2 separate regions of the Homo sapiens genome follow, and region 1 is linked to region 2. Evidence: fine-mapped QTL for protein levels in blood plasma. A gene starts in region 2. The other region holds a variant in brackets. All regions are shown on one strand. Distances are between the middles of the regions.

Region 1 (8,000 bases), 36 kb before region 2:
GCCGGGCATGGGCCCATGGGCTCCTGGACCATGAGTGAGCTTCAGGGTGCTGCCAGGGCCACCCTGGCTGCCGGGCATGGGCACATGGGCATCACTCTGCAGGGAGATCCATGCTTTATCTGCCTCCGAGAGGCTGAGGCCCAGCCAGGGCACAGAGCAGCTTTGGTTGGTGTCCCATCCCAGGTGAGGCCCTGACCACAGGAGGCAAGAGCCCAACGGTGCTTCGATTCAGTCCAAATAGCTCAGGAAACCACGTTCCCCTAAATGGGATGCCTTACACTAAGATACAGAACAAAACGAAGGGGTCAGTGGGAGATGCTGCTTCTCACTTCTAGCAGAGCTGTGTCCCGGAGTCAGTACTGGACGCCTGGTCAGGGTCCAGCCTGAGCCAGGCCCTGAGCTGACTTTCCAGGCACCCCAGCTCATGGCATGGCAGATGACAGAACGTAAGTCCACTTTCCAGTGGGGGCAGGAATAAAACAAGAATTGCAATAATGAGGTTGATAAAGTTGGTGAACTGGCTTCTCTGTGACTCTAGCGTCTCAGCCCCAGGCCACAGCATCACTGCATGCGGGTCAGTCCCCTGGCCACCCGAGGAAATTGCCGGTCGCCCTGTTGGGGCTCCCGGGAGCCACAGCATGGGCGTCCCTACAGTAGGATGAGAGTCCCATGGCCTTCAGGTGGGCAGCACCAGGGAAGGGCAGCTCCAGGCAGGGCAGCACCTGGACTCTGATTGTGACATGGGGGACCTTGGCCTGGCTTCATCCTGTCCTTGCATGACCAGGGCCAACTCAAAATGACAGCACTGCCCCTCCAAAACATGGCGCAGGTGGCTTCCACCCTCTCACAGTCCACCCTGTGTTAATCACTAAATCATTACTAAGTTTTTCACTAACTGTCATGATAACTGCAACAGCCGCTATTTGTCATGAGATTTTTGTTTCTTGTTTTTAGATTCTGGGGATACCTGTGGAAACCCCACACTACTGGAGCATCGCTCAGAGCTAACCTCATCAGTCCTTAGGTAGAAGGGCAGGGATCCTATGAGAGGAAACCAGACAAAGACCCTCGACTTCGGAGGAGCCTCAGGCGCTCCTCTCCCCACCCCTCAGCAAGGGCTGCCTGGGAGCCTGTGGCTGCTTCCGCACCTGGGAGTGGGGCTTCCCTGCCCATGGCAGAATCTTTCTGTGGGCAGCATCCTCTATATGACCTCCGGCGGCTCACAGACCCTCTCTGGACCTCAATCTCATCACCTGTAGAGGGAAGTTTGGTCTGTCCCACAGAGCTCTGCCAAAACGGTAGATCTCAGGAAGATGGGGTCCCCCTTGGTGGGCCTCGCACCAACATTCCTCTGCTTCTCTGGGGGTCCCATCAGCTGCCAGAGACCCTGACCCTGCCCCCTCCTCAAGCCACAGTCCAGATGGGTTCTTTGCCCCCAGCCACCCCTCCTGTGCCCAGGGCTGTCTTCCATTTGCACGTGCAGAGGAGGGGGAGGGGAGGCTGCTCTTCCTGCCTGGGCACCTCTTTGGTGCCAACATCCCAGAGAAAGGGAGGGGCAGCCTCAGAGTAGCTCCCCGCAGAGTCCCCCTGCAAAGGAGGCCGCGCTGGGCAGGGGAAGGTGTGCAGGCACAGGGCAGCCCTGACCTGGAGACAGAGCCTGAGCCCAGAGGTGCAGGACCAGGCCTGGGTCCTCGGAAGAGGCAGGAAGGGGCGCCTCCGCCGACCACCCCTCCCTCCCTAGCTGCCCTCCATGCACTCTGCCCTGTGGCTTCTGCCTGCCCTCTTGTGGGGGCTCCACTTGCCGCAGAGGCCACCAATTGCTCTTCTGTGCTACACAACTGCAAGGGACAGCTGATTAATAACAAGTGAGCAGCCTGATTAATGATGAAGCAGCTGCAGTCCCGGCCACTGGGGAAACTCCCCGGTGGGTTCTGAGTCCTCTTCGCTTTCCTGCAGACTCAAAGCTTTCTTCAGAAGGACCCAAATTCCCCTGTTTGTTCTGGGGAACAAATCATGAAAGCAGCAGTGGAAGGTTCTGGACTAGGAAGGTTCTGGTTCAGTTCAAGGCTGGTGCAGGCTGCCTGGCTGGCAGGGGCAGCTGAGCCTCTGGGGGCTGTGCCCAGGGCTGCAGGGCGGACAGAGGCCCGACCCTGCTGTTGTGGGGTTTCACAGTGGGTAAGGGCGGGGGAACAGGCCCTGACCCCTCATAGGGACATGCAGGTGAGATTAAAGGGCTTTGGGGCATAGACTGGGGAGATGCTGCCTCTGGCCAGAATTCGTGGAAGGCTGCCTGAAAGAGGTGGCTGTAGGGCCTAGGGCTAGGTTTTGTAGATAAGATTCATACTGAGATTGGAAGAAAGGACATTGCACAGGGGGCACTGTTTAGGCAAAGGTGCAGAGAGGGGAATGTGCAGAGATAAATTAGGGCAACAGCATGAAACCCCGGCATGGGGCACTGCCTAAATGCAAGGCTAAGAGCCAGTCACACGAGGACTGGCTGTGTCTACCTTGCCCCGCGCCGTGGGCATCCCCAGCACCAAGCATGGTGCCTGGCATGCAGTGAACCTTCAGTGTCACCTGACCGAGTAAACACAGGACTGAAGGAAGGGAAGGCGAGATGGATGCAAAGGGCCCAGTGTGCCTCAGTCTTCTTTGGGAGGCAGCGGGGACCAGGGACATTTTTGAGGTGGTTTCCTCTCCAGGGATTAACCGAGTTTATCCCTCCTCAGTTCTCCCAGGCTATGGGATGGATGCCAAGGGAACTTCCAGACAAACTATTCTGAAGTCTGGGCCTGTGAGAAGCATCTTGAGAGATCTTTATGCTGCTGTGAGGATTCTAGGACCTGGAGGTCTGTCAGGGCAATCAGGAATGCTCCCTGGAGGAAGTGGCAGTGAGGCAGAGCTTTGTGGAGGGGCAGCAGGGGAGAGAGTGCTGTGGCCAAAGGAAGGGAAAGGGCCATGGCAGGGAAGCAGGCCAGACACTGTTAGGCCTATTAGGAGAGTGTGAAGGGTAATTGGATCTGAGTGGGAGGAGCGGCTGTGGTAACTCCTTGTCTCAACGCCTCTGACTAAAGTGGCCAGGCACACCACCCAGGCACCTGCCGCCCTTGCCCCAGGGGCTGCTGCAACACCCAACTCGGCTTTAGCCAGAGGGCACTGGGCCAGGCAGATATGGGGTCCTTCTCCCTGAAAGACAGGGAAGGAAGGTTCCTGCCCCAACCCCAGGCTCTGCCCAGGCTCGTGGAGAAGCCTGTCCCCGAGGCAGTGGGCGGAACCAGGATGCTCTCAGTCACAGGGCAGCCAAGCGGCTGGGGCGGCAGCTCTTCATCATCTTCAGTTGCATTTGACAGCTGTGGCTGACCAGGAGGGGGCAGCTAGGCAGAAGTGTCATCCCGGTCACACCAGTGTCACCTGAGGCTCATCAGGGCAGTGACTTGCCCGAGGTCTCCCGGAGCAGCTCAGTAAGGATTGAGCATTTGTTTACTCATCTCCATCGCTGACAGCTGAAACTGGATTCATCCTGCCCTGCCCAGGGGGCTGGGAATCAGGGATCGGGGCCAGCTCAGCTGAGATGTGAGGGTCCCAAATAGTATTTCCACCCCTGACCCCAAAATAGGCCCCAATCCCCTGTCCCAAAGACTTGACGTGCCCATT[G/A]ATGTGTCTGTCGTTCCTGACAGGGTGTCCTCTTGGTTCCTCAGGTCAGAAACCCAAGGGTCATCTCTGTCCCTGGGCTCTTCCTCACTGCCCACATCCAGTCCATCAGCGAAGTGTGTTAGTTGGCTACCTGCATGCGTCCTGAATCCGTCTCCTTCTCCTCCTCCATCTCTCTGCTGGACCACAGCCGTGAACTCATGCCCCAGCTTCCAGGCCTTCCTGGTCCAGTCCATCTTCCTCTCAAAAGCCCATTGATCTCCAAAACACAAGTCTGAGCAAGGCTCTCCCCTCTTGAAATCCTTCAATGCCTCCCCGTTACTCTCAGGACGAAGCCCACATTTCTGCCTACTTCTCCAGGCTCAACTTTTTCCTCCAGCTCCATCACCCACTATATCATTTTGTCCCAGCCACATGGACCTTCTTTCAGTTCCTTGAAAATGCCGGGCCTTTACTGATGCCCAAGCCTTCGTACAAGCTGTTCTTCCTGTCTGGAACATTCTTTCCTGTTCCCCCGTCTCACTTCCTTTCACTCCTACTCTTATTTTAGAGTGCAGCTTGAACCCTTACTCCTTCCTTCCTCTATGTCCCCAGAGTTCACTGACTTCCCTCATCTTGGCTGTCTTCATATTGTATTGTGATTGCTAGTTTATTTGTTGGGACTCACACAAAAGACTGTAAAATCCTTGAAGGATCTCTTTTGTGTTCCAACTTATCCCTCCAGGACTTAGCACCTTAGTGGGTGCTCAATAAAATATGTTTATTAGGCCAGTTTGGTGGCTCACACCTGTAATTCCAATACTTTCGGAGGCAGAGGCAGGTGGATCACTTGAGCCCAGGAGTTCAAGACAAGCCTGGGCAACATGGTGAAACCCTGTCTCTACAAAAAATGCAAAAAAATGACCAGGCGCAGTGGCTCACATCTGTAATCCCAGCACTTTGGGAGGCTGAGGCAGGCGGATCACAAGGTCAGGAGATCGAGACCATCCTGGCCAACATGGTGAAACCCTGTCTCTACTAAAAATACAAAAAAAAAAAATTAGCTGGGTGTGGTGGCGTGTGCCTGTAATCCCAGCTGCTCGGGAGGCTGAGGCAGGAGAATCGCTTGAACCCGGGAGGTGGAGATTGCAGTGAGCCGAGATCACACCACTGCACTCCCTCCTGGGCAATATAGTGAGACTCCATCTCGAAAAAAAAAAATAGCCAGGTGTTACAGTGTGCACCTGTCCCAGCTACTCTGGAGGCCGAGTAGGGAGGATCACCTACATCAGGAAAGTTGAGGCTGCAGTGAGCCATGATTGTACCACTGCACTCCAGCCTGGGCGACAGAGTGAGACCCTGTCTCAAAAAATATATATATGTTTACTGAATGTATAAATAGGTGAGTGGTTGTATGGATGGGTGAATGAATGAATGGGTGAATGGATATGGATGGGTAAATGAGTGAATGGATGGATGGAGGATGGATGATGGATGGACGTGTGGGTGAGTGATGAATGGATGAGTGGCTGGAAGGTGGATGAAAGAATGGACGGATGGATGGATGGTAGATAAATGGATGGGTGGATGTGTGTATGGATGATGGATAGATGGATTGGTGGATGGATGGTGAAAGGATAAATAGATAGATGGATGGGTAGATGAATGGATGGATAGATGGATGGGTAGATGAATGGATAAATGGATGGGTAGATGGATGGATGGTAGATGGATGTGTGGATGGATGGCAAAAGAATAAATAGATGGATGGATGGGTAGATGGATGGATGGAGGGATGGATGGAAGAATGGATGGATAGATGGATGGATGGTAGATGGATGTGTGGACGGATGGTGAGAGAATAAATAGATAGATGGATGGGTAGATGAATGGATGAACGGATGGGTAGATGGATGTGTAGATGGATGGTAAAAGAATAAATGGATGGATGGGTAGATGAATGAATGAATGGATGGACAGACGGATGGATGAATGGATGGATACATGAATGGATGAATGAATGGGTGGATGGATGGATGGATGGATGATGGATGGATGGAAGGATGGATGAATGGGTTGATGGATGATGGATGGATGCATGAAACTGGATGGGTGAGCAGATGGATGGACTGATGGATGGGTGGGTGTATGTGTAGATGTATGGCTAGATAGATGGATGTGTGGTTGGATGGATGAATAGAAGTATGGGTGCATGGCTTGATAGATGATGAATGGATATATACATGCATGAATGCATGGATAGATGGATGGTCACTTAGAGATTCTGAACTACAACATGGGCCCAACTCACATTCTATCCCAGGGCCTCCTTCATCCAAATAGTTTTTAAACCAGTGTGTACCATCATTTCATGAGACACACCCGAATCCTTCTGTCATGGATAAAGCAGAGGAATCTAACCAAGGACACCCTGACTCCTCCCCCATCTAGTTTACAACTTCCTTGTGGTTGTGGCCATTTTTTGCCAAACCTATATTGCTTCAACTGTGGCTTGGATCTCAACCTTTATTCATCCCAGAGGGGCCTCCTTCCCTCAGTTGCACTGCCATCTTCTAGCTCTTTACTGTCTCCAATCCCATGACCCCCTTTCCCTCTGCTGACAACATGATCCTGTCTCTCCACTTCCATAAAGACCTCCCCTTGACTTCAACACCCTCGCATGCTGCCCTCCCATTTCTCCTTTCATTCATGACCAAACTGCTCCGATGTGTGGTCTGTACTTCCCTCTACCATTTCCTCTCTGCCCACTTGTGATTTAATTAATCCTCAGCAATGTGGCTTCCAGCTCTGATGCTCTAGGAAAGGTGCTCTCACTGAGCCTCTTGATCCCCTCCAGCCACTCCCTGAACCTCCCACTGCCTTACATTGGGCAGTGATTACCAGCAGAGGCTCTGGAATCATTACCTACAGCCCTGAGTCCCAGTCACTCTTCTACTTGTTCCTGGTTGTGTGACTAACAGCGATTTTATGAACTTCAGTTTTCTCATCTGTGAAATGGGTGTGATGATAAGACACTCCCTCATGGTATGACCTGGAAAACTAACTGAGATGAAGTCTATAAAGTTCCTAGTCTCCAGCTGGCTCAGGGAATCGCCTTGTCATCCCTGGGAACCTACCATCCTTCTTGATGCTCCTCCCACTGGGATTTGGGACATGGTTCTTCCCTGAGCTCCCTGTGAGCTCCTCTTCTCAGAAATGTCCCTGAGCTCTCACTATAGGCTGGGGTGGGTGTTGGGGCAGGGGAATCTCAGCAGTTAAGTCTATTAGTTTACTTTGTCCTCACAACAGCTTCAGGGAGTAAGAACTATTAGTTTCTACAGATGAGAAAATTAGGAACTGACCAGAGTAGTTTAAGCAACTGGTCCACTGTAATCCCAGCACTTTGGGAGGCTGAGGTGGGAAGATCGCTTGAGCCCAGGAGTCTGAGACCAGCCTGGGCAACATAGTGAGACTCTGTCTCTACAAAAAAAATAAAATGAAAATTAGCCAATCATGGTGGTGCACGACTGAGCCATGACTGTGGCACTGCGCTCCAGCCTGGGCAAAAGAGCAAGATTCCATTTCAACAACAACAAAATAAATCTGCTTCATGGGCACAGAGCTAGCTGGTGGCAGGAGCAAGCCTGGGCTTCTGTCCTAGACTTTGTTTTTGCCTCAAGCAACCTTCCCTTCCTCCCTGACATCATCTACCCCAGATCTTTTACCTCTGGATAAAGACTTCTTTTTTTTTTTTGAGACGGAGTCTTGCTCTTTCGCCCAGGCTGGACTGCAGCAGCGCTATCTCGGCTTACTGCAAGCTCCACCTCCCGGGTTCACGCCATTCTCCTGCCTCAGCCTCCCAAGTAGCTGGGACTACAGGCGCCCGCCACCATGCCCGGCTAATTTTTTTTTTTTTTTGTATTTTTAGTAGAGACGGGGTTTCACCGTGTTAGCCAGGATGGTCTCGATCTCCTGATCTCGTGATCCACCTGCCTCGGCCTCCCAAAGTGCTGGGATTACAGGCGTGAGCCACCGCACCTGGCCTGATAAATACTTCTTAAATCTCTGTCTCCAGCCCTGACCAGTAACTAATCAGACACACCCACCTGGACACTCCTCCTTCCGGCCCATCTTTCTGTGGCACCCCTCAGCTCTCTCTGCCTTGCAGCCTGGCCAGCTCTGTGCAGTTCTGTCCCCCACACTAACCTGTGAGCTGCTGGGAAGCAGAAGTCTGTCCTGCTATGGTTCACTCAGCCCCAGGTACCAGAAGGGCAAAACCGAGTTCCCTCTCACACCAGCCTCCTTTTTTTCTGTTCAAGCCAGCATTGTTTCCCATCTCCCCATCTGCCCCCAAGTCTGAAACTTTGCCC
Region 2 (8,784 bases):
CAAGGAGAAGCACTAGTAGCTTCAGGGGGTTGGGGGCTGTGTGCAGGAGGGGCTCCCCAGGTCACAGGGCTGTCCTTTCTCTCTGAGTAACCAGGATATAAAAGTCACTGTGTGGGCTGGCCACCCTCCTTCTGCAATGGAACCTCAGACTGACTCACCTGCAGCCTCCCCAGGCCCTATTGAGTGGAGCCAGGTGGCAGTCCCCTAAAATGGCCTGCAGGTGTCTTCTTTGGGAAGCCCCAGAAAATACGGTGCCCCTGAGTGACCAGAGACAGGAGGAGGCAAGGGAGGCTGCCCAATGGATAGGAAAGAAGGTCCATTCTGTGCTCCCCAAATCCAAGATGGGAAAAGCCATTGCCCACCTCCAGGGCTTTAAAGAGCCACAGAGTCATCCTGTCTCCAAAGTCCCCACCCTCTGCCACGGTCCCTGAATGGTCCTGGCCCGGCTCAGTTCTTGGTTCTGCCAGGAAGATTGTTTAACTGACCTGGGGAGCCTGTCCCTTCTCAGAGCTGAAATTTTCCTTTCTGTAAATGGAGACAATGCCTCATCCAGCCAGTCATATATTATCTGTCATAGGAGTGTCAGGAAGGCAGGGACCTTGTCTGTCTTGGTATCATAGTTTCCCAGCATCAAGCACAAGGTGGATACTCAATCAATATTCATTGAATGAAATTAGTCTCAGTTTACTTATCTCTCTTTAATGCATCTATCTACCTATCCATCCACCCGTCCACCCACTCTTATCAATCTTCTACCCATTCCTCGCCCACCTGCCACCTCCTGCCCAACCCCTATTCATCTCCATTCATCCATCTACCCACTCCCTCTCCCCTACCTACCACCTGTCAATCTTCCGCCCCCTTTTATCTCACCTACTCATCCATCCCTCATCATCCCCTCCCCATCCCTTCTTCCATCCATCCATCTGTCCATCCATCCACCCATCCATCCATCCATCCATTCATCCATCTATCCACCCATCCATCCATCCATCCATCCATCCATCCATCCATCCATCCATCCATCCACTTCCTGATTCAGCCAACACTGGCTGGAATTACTTTTGAGTATATACAAAAATCTCAGGCCCTCTTATCCTTAACCTTGAGCTCTTTCTCCCATAGGCACTGGTGCTGAGTTTGAAGAGAGTGCTTCCATCCCAATAAATGCCATCAGATCACTCTGTTTATTCAGTCAACCAACAAATGCTGGTTCCTCTTGCCAGGCCCTGTGCTGGGTGCTGTGAGGTACAGTGAGATGAACAAGGAATGCCTCTGGCCTCAGAAGGCTCCCAGCCTGATGGACAGGTAAATTAGGCACACAAAGTATCAGAGGTTTTATTTATTTTTTTTAATTGAACACCTACTGTGTATTGGACCCTGTGTCCAGCATGTACACATCTGCTCTCTTTAATTCCCAACATTCCTGCAAAGGGAGTATTATCCCAACTTTACAGATGCAGAAGCTGGAAATAAGAGAGGCTAAATGTGCCCAGTGCCACACAGCTGCATGGTGGCAGAGCTAGTTTTCTACTCAGCCCCTAAACACCCCACTGTTCTAGGCTACCCTAGATGCCAGGTAGAAACACAGTGTTCCAGAACATACCACAAACATATTGGGGTTTACATGAGGGAGAGACCACTTCCAACTTCAAATGGTCAGGGGAGGCTTCTTGGAGGAATTCTCCTTTAGGCTGGACCTCAAGGACTTCTAAGAGTCTTCCAGGGTCTTAGAAGGAGACTCAGGAAATGTCCTGGGTTGCTGGATGAGGTGATAAAGGGAGGGCTTGAGCCATTGCCCAGCTGTGTGTCCTGAGCAAGTCACTCGGACTCCCTGAGCCTCAGTTTCCTTACTTGTAAAATGGATGTGACAATACCTGCTTCACAGTGTGGTTGTGAGAATAAGAATTTTTTAACTTCTGGAGCATTTTTCCCTTAGGGCAAGGTTTCTCAACAGTGACACTACTGACATTTTGGACCAGACAATTCTTTGTTTTGGGGGCTGTCCCGGGTACTATAGGAGGTTTGGCAGCATCTCTGGCCTCTACACACTAGAGGCGAGTAGCTCAACTGAACCAAAAACATTGGGATATTTGTAACAAGTAAAAAATTTCTCTAGAAATTGCCAAATGGCCCATAGGGGAGCAAAATTACTCACTGAGGACCATTGCTCTAGAGATATCCACATGGCTCCCGCCCTCACCCCGCTCCAAACTGTGCAAAGCCACCTACTCAGTGGGCTTCCCTAACCCCCTATTTAAAATGTCAACACCTCTCTTCTCCCCTCTCTATTTTTCTTTTTCTTTTCTTTTCTTTCTTTTTTTTTTTTTTAAATGGACTCTCACTCTGTCACCCAGGCTGGAGTGCAGTGACACGATCTCGGCTCACTCCAACCTCTGCCTCCCAGGTTCAAGCGATTCTCTTGCCTCAGCCTCCCAAGTAGCTGGGACTACAGGCATGCACCACCACACCCAGCTAATTTTATATTTTTAGTAGAGACAGGGTTTCATGATGTTGGCCAGGCTGGTCTTGAACTCCTGACGTCAGGTGATCTGCCCGCCTTGGCCTCCCAATGTGCTGGGATTACAGGCATGAGCCCCTGCGCCCAGCCACCCCTCTCTATTTTTTTATCACAGTGCCTTTTCTCCTTCCAACAGACCACATTGTTTACTGATTTACTTTGTGTGTTATGTGTCCTCTGCAGTTGAATTACAGCACCTCGAGGGCTGAGGTCCTTGGCTGTTTTATTTATTGATGCCGCCCCAGTACCTAGAACCAGGTTTGTCACACAGTAGGTGTCCAATAACTATTTGTTGAATGAATGGACAAAATGCCTAAGGAAGCGCTTTGTGGCATAATACCTTAACCAACAGAAAAATGGAGGAATTTTTATTTAAATTAGACAGGGGCCTGGATCTGACACTCTTGAATTTATCCTCCCATGCCCTCCCCATCCACCCCCACTGCTAATGAGGCGGGTAGGCTATAGGAGCTTAAAACAGATTCGTTTTTTTTTCTCTTTCTTGCCAGGACTTGAGTGGGAGTGAATGCGTCAGCTCTTGGAGTGGGGGGGCAATGCTCTGCACTGACTCGTAGCTGCAGGTTTGTTATATAAAGTACAGAAGCCTCCTGCCTGACACAGCCCCACAAACCCACATTTGGGGACTGACGCAGCTGCCCCACACTAGTCAGGGCAGCAGCTACGAACCCCCCAGCCTCCTCTCGGGGTCTCTCTGGCTTCCAAACCACCCCCTTGTCCTACAGGGGCTCCCGAGGGCCTCTCAGAGCCATACATGTCAGCGTGGGAGAGGACTTCCAAGGTGAGCCTGGTCAAATGCCTAGTTTTACAGGAGGAGAAAGTGAGGCTGAGAAAGGTTCCAATAATGCCCAGGATCTTCCAGTAAAGCCAATGACCAAGATGAGGGCAGAAGCCTGGTTCTAAAGCCTCAGGCTGCTAGTCTGAGCACCCAGGGTCCCCCAGTGTCCCCTTTCCATCCTAGCCTAGGACCCTTCCCTCTCTCAGCTTAGTAAAAGTAATCCTCCTCCTCCGCCCTCTTCAAAACACCTCCATAGGCATTGGAACCTCGTCACCCTCCCCCAATCCACCGGAGAGGTAATAGCTATATTTAAAGATGCAGCAACTGGGACCAGAGGAGGCAAGACCCTGCTCACGGTCACATAACAGGACTGTGGCAAAGCAGCCGCCATCTGACTCCCTGCTTTCCAGATCTCACTGTCCGCAGACACCTCAGGCTTCAGGGCCCCAGCCCAGACAGCAGGAAGCCAGCAGGAATTTGCCTCCACCACTCTCACGTGCCCACCCACCCACACACCTGCTCCCTGCCCCAGGGTGAGTTTGCTCCATGGAAATATCTGGACAGTGGGGACTACTTCTCATTCTCCCAGACTTGCTGTGTGCCCACCTTCTCTGAAGGTCACCCTGCCAGATGGTGGGGGCACTCCCTGAGGAGGGGGCTGGCTAGCGGTTCATGGAGGTGATGTGGCCCACAGAGGTGGTGAGTGTGCATCTGTGCTCTCTCCTGCATTCAGTCCCATGTGTCTTACCTTCTCCTGCCCTACTTGCTGGCTGTGCATTGTCAGGCCAGTTTCTAAACCTCTCTGGGCCTCCATCTTATCCATATCAGGTAGGATGGTTAATTATGTACCCCTACCAGGTCCTGGGCTTCAGTAAGCAAGTGACTAGAGGCAAAAGCATTTTCTACACTGTGCTTGGAGGAGGAAGACAGCATGACGGGTAGACACAGGCAGAGCAACTGGGGCTATAGACTAGCACAGCAGTGGCAAGCCCCAACCATGAGCTGCAGTGACCTTGACCTTCACTGGTCCTGGGCCCCCTAATCCTGGGGGCTTTGAAAACAGGACAGGAGAAAGTCCCAACTGTGGCCTGGCCCAGGGCCAGGGCTGCGGGTTACACATTAACGCTTGATGGAAAGAGCCAGCCACTGTCAGCCAGGGCCTCCCACCCCAGTGCCCAGCAGGAGCTTCTGCAGGCTCTCTCCACCCCCGCCCTCCTGGCACACCCACACCTGGCTCCCTTATGCCACCCACACCACCTCTCTGTGCTTCCAGGCACAGCCACTTTGCTCGCTGGGCCAGGCAGGGCGGTCGCTGGCAACTGGAAATCTGTCCAGCGCTGCATCTGGGGGAAGCGAGGTGCCCAGCCCCCTCTCGCACATCCCTGGGGAAGCGGCTGCCACCGGCCTTGAGCTTTACCCAGGCAGGGTCTGGGGCCCCTGATGTCAGGCTTGAGGGATAGACAAGGGGCTGGGGGCTCCCTACCCTGTTTGTGCCCAAGTCAAGCCCCACTTACCAGCCAGCAGGACAGTCAGATGGCAGAAGGTGGCCAAGCGGAGCAGCCACGACAGAGATATCGGAGCCATGGCTGAGGGTGGGCAAGAGTCCCGGCGGGGGCCAGGCAGGCGGCTAGAGCCAGGCGGCAGAGCTCAGTGCTGTCCCCTTGCCGCCGCCAGAGATCTGTGGCTTTTTATAATGGGGTTGGCTGCCTCCGCCTCCAGCCCCCGCAGGCAGGAGGGTGGGAGGGGAGAGGAAGGGAGCCAGTGTGCAGCCGCTGGATTCCTCAGGATGTTGCCAAGGAACCAAGCCGGCTTTGTGTCCCTGGGCTTCTCACCATCCTAGGCTTGTCATACTGGGACCTTCCCCGGGAGGCTGGACTGGGCCTGCCTGGGTACAAAGGCCTCCTCTCCTGCCACAAGCTGGGAACATGCCCTAGGATCTGGCCTGGGGCCCTTGATCCTAAGTGGGCAACACACAAAAGGCCAGCAGGCCGTGGAATAGAGAGCGGGGCGCCAAGGGGCCGGGAGAGACTCAGGGCCCCTCCATCCTGGGTCTGACAAGCTCTTCTTTGATCCAGAGAATGCCTCGCCCACATCAGGATGGACCCCTAAATTTCCCCTCTTAGAATCCCAAGCTCCTGGGGGACCTTGTTGATCTATGCATCTCCAGAGCCCAGCAGGGAGCCTGAAGTCAGCAGGGGCTTGGTGCAGGGTCTGCTGAAAGAAGGATTGAGTCCAACTTCATATGGATAGATGGGGAAACTGAGGCCCGGAGCCACCCCAGGTTATCCACAGCATCAGAGTGGAGAACTCCCCTCCCACCACCATGATGAGCAGAATGTGGACAGCTCAGGACCCAGGAGAGAGCCCTGGCCTCCCTGCCTCCACCTCCCGGTCTCCCGCTCCCTGCTTTGCACCCACTCCCACCTCTGCTCTGGCCCCTGTTAGCCCAAAGAACAAGGTGGCTGCCAACCCATCCCCGATAACTCTGTGGCTCTTGGCTCCTCAACTCTGTAGCCGTGGCTTGGATAAGGCTTGCCTCTCGTGGGGCCTGAGTTCTCTATCTGCCCAAAGAGAGCATTGGGCTAGTGCAATGGGGAGAGGGCTTCCCAGCACCGGCCCTCCAACAGGCTCTCACCGAAGGGTGCAGAGGCTTGCCAGCCTTGGGAGCACATTAGAACACAGTCTGCCTTCATGGCAGCCTTCCCTAAAGGCAGTGGCAACAATCCCTGAGACTCCAGAAGAGTCAGCAGCTCTGCCTTGGTATAGGACTGAGCTGTACTGGTGTCTCCAGGCTGCCAATCTGAGGGAAACCAGTTGTGGAGCCAGCATCCCACGCTATGAGCCAGTTGGGCTGGGCAGAGGGGCCACAGATCCCAAGGCCAGGGACCTCTCTCTCCTCAACCACCCCCCCCCGCCCCCCCACCCAACCCAATGGGCTGCCTGGTGCATGGGGTTAGGGGTTAGGAGGCTAGATACTTCTTGAAGTAGCGGAACACCCTTGGCAGGAGCCAAGGTCCACTCATGCTCAGAGAATCTGTCCTGGCCTGTGCACATGGGAAGCTAGTAGCCTTCTCATTCCCAATGTCCAATCCCTCTTTTTATAACTGGTGAAACTGAGGCCCAGAGAGGGACAAGGAGGGATAAAAACTGAGGTCGTGTTCTTTCTGCTCTGTTCATGTAAGAACAGAGGAGGAGGCCGAGTGCGATGGCTCACGCCTGTAATCCCAGCACTTTGGGAGGCTGAGGTGGGTGGATCACCTGAGGTCAGGAGTTCGAGGCCAGCCTGGCCAACACGGTGAAACCTCGTCTCTACTAAAAATACAAAAATTAGCTGGGTGTGGTGCACACCTGTAATCCCAGCTACTTGGGAGGCTGAGGCAGGAGAATCGCTTGAACCTGGGAGGCAGAGGGTTGCAGTGAGCCAAGATCACGCCACTGCACTCTAGCCTGGGTGACAGAGTGAGACTCTGTCTAAAAAAAAAAAAAAAAAAAGACATTTTCTTAGGTTCACCAGCCAGGAAATGAGGGATCCTGGATTCGTCCCAGCCAGCTGGCTCTGAGGTCTGAGCTCAAGACCAGTAGGGTCCACCACCTGCCTCCACCCTCACTGCGAGGACCAATGTGAAGACTAAGTGAGTTTATGTCCATAGGGTACGGGACAGAGCCTGGCATAAAATAGAAGCGAAAATGCAAAGCACGGCTCTGCTTTTCCTCATTTGACCCTTTGGACACCCTCTACCCTCCCCAGGTCCAGCTTCTACTCCCATAAAATGGGAATGATCACCCCCATCTATCTCATTAGGATGTTAAGAACTGAATTTAGATTTAATTTGGACACAATAACCAGGCTTTCAGGCTAGCCAGACCCAAGGCTAAACAGGACTCCAGGCCGGATGTGGTGGCTCACACCTGTAATCCCAGCACTTTGGGAGGCCGAGGCAGGAGGCAGAGGCAGATTCCCGGGAATCTGAGACCAGCCTGGCAAAACCCCCTCTCTACAAACATGGTGAAACCCCCTCCCTACAAAAAATATACGAAAATTAGTGTGGTGGCCTGTGCCTGCAGTCCCAGCTGCTCAGGAGGCTAAAGTGGAAGGATCAAGTGAGCCTGGGGAGGTTGAGGCTGCATTGAGCCATGATCATGCCACTGCACTCCAGCTTGGGCACAGAGTGGGACCCTATCTGAAAAAAAATAAATAAATACATCAGCAGGACTCCACCACGGATAAGGGGTGTTCCCTTGGGCAAGTGACTTAACCTCTCTCTGCATTTCAGCTTCCCTATATGTAAAATGGGATGCAAACAGCCACCTCATCAAGCCACCACGACAGTGAATAAAACTAAGGACTTTCACAGTGCCTGGCACGCAGGAGGCATTAGTATCTGTTATTGAGCCCGGTGTGTGCCAGGCAATGTGGTGGGATGGGGGACACAAAGGCAAGTGAGCTGAAGTCCTTGCCCCCAGGAGCTGTAGCTCAGTAGGAGAGAGAAGTTGCCAGCCCTACCAGAGGGCTAGAGGCTGTGGGCTCGGGCAGGAAGGGAGAACTGCATGCTTGTTGGGGAAACAAGAAAGGTGGGTGAGAGAGATGATCTTTCCATCTGAAGATGGGCAGAATTTTGCTTTGTCTCTTTAAAATTTCTGTTTTGGAAAATATTCAACAATACAAAAGAAAGAATCGTACAAAGACTTTCAAATCTCCACCAATGGCTGGGCGCAGTGGCTCACGCCTATAATCCCAGCACTTTGGGAGGCCGAGGTGGGTGGATCACCAGAGCTCAGGAGTTGGAGACCAGCCTGGCCAACATGGTGAAACCCCGTCTCTACTAAAAATACAAAAAATTAGCTGAGTGTGGTGGCGGGTGCCTGTAATCTCAGCTACTTGGGAGGCTGGGAGAGAATTGCTTGAACTCGGGAGGCAGAGGTTGCGGTGAGCCGAGATTGCACCACTGCACTCCAGCCTGGGCAACAAGAGAGAAACTCTGCCTCAAACAAACAAACAAACAAACAAACAAAACCTCTACCACCAATGATTAGCATTTTTTAATATTTGTTTTATCTTTTTTATTTTTATTTTTTAGCCAAACCATTACAAAGTAAATTATAGATGCTTGACACTTTTCCCCTAAATATTCCAGCATGCATCTCCTTAGAATAAAGCTATTGTCTTACATACATGTAATATCATTATCCCATCTAACAAAATTAACAATAATTCCTGTATGTCATCTAACACCCAGTTCATACCCAAATTTCTCCAATTGTCCCCAAAATGTATTTTGTGGTTTCTCCTCTCTCCCTCTTTCCTTCTTCCTGCCTCCTTTCTTCTCTCCCTCACTCCCTTTCTTTTTTATTTTATTCATTTATTTTTATTTTATTTTATTTTATTTTATTTTTTGAGACGGAATCTCGCTCTGTCACCCAGGCTGGAGTGCAGTGGCGCCGTCCCGGCTCACTGCAAGCTCTGCCT

Evidence for each region. PIP is the posterior inclusion probability: the model's chance that the variant is causal. Protein levels are from the aptamer-based SomaScan assay of Sun 2018.
Region 1: its variant is fine-mapped to the plasma level of the CX3CL1 protein (Sun 2018, PIP 0.95).

What each region holds. Positions count from the first base shown.
Region 1 is chr16:57,405,426-57,413,425 of GRCh38, reverse strand. All of the region lies in intron 1 of CCL17 (C-C motif chemokine ligand 17), which reads right to left. Among named protein-coding and RNA genes, the nearest start is that of CCL17, 4.7 kb to the right of the region's middle. The variant G/A (reference allele first, on the strand shown) is at 3,655.
Region 2 is chr16:57,368,686-57,377,469 of GRCh38, reverse strand. CX3CL1 (C-X3-C motif chemokine ligand 1) reads right to left here and starts at 4,980. Exons shown (of 3, transcript NM_002996.6): 1 at 4,832-4,980. The coding sequence starts at 4,901.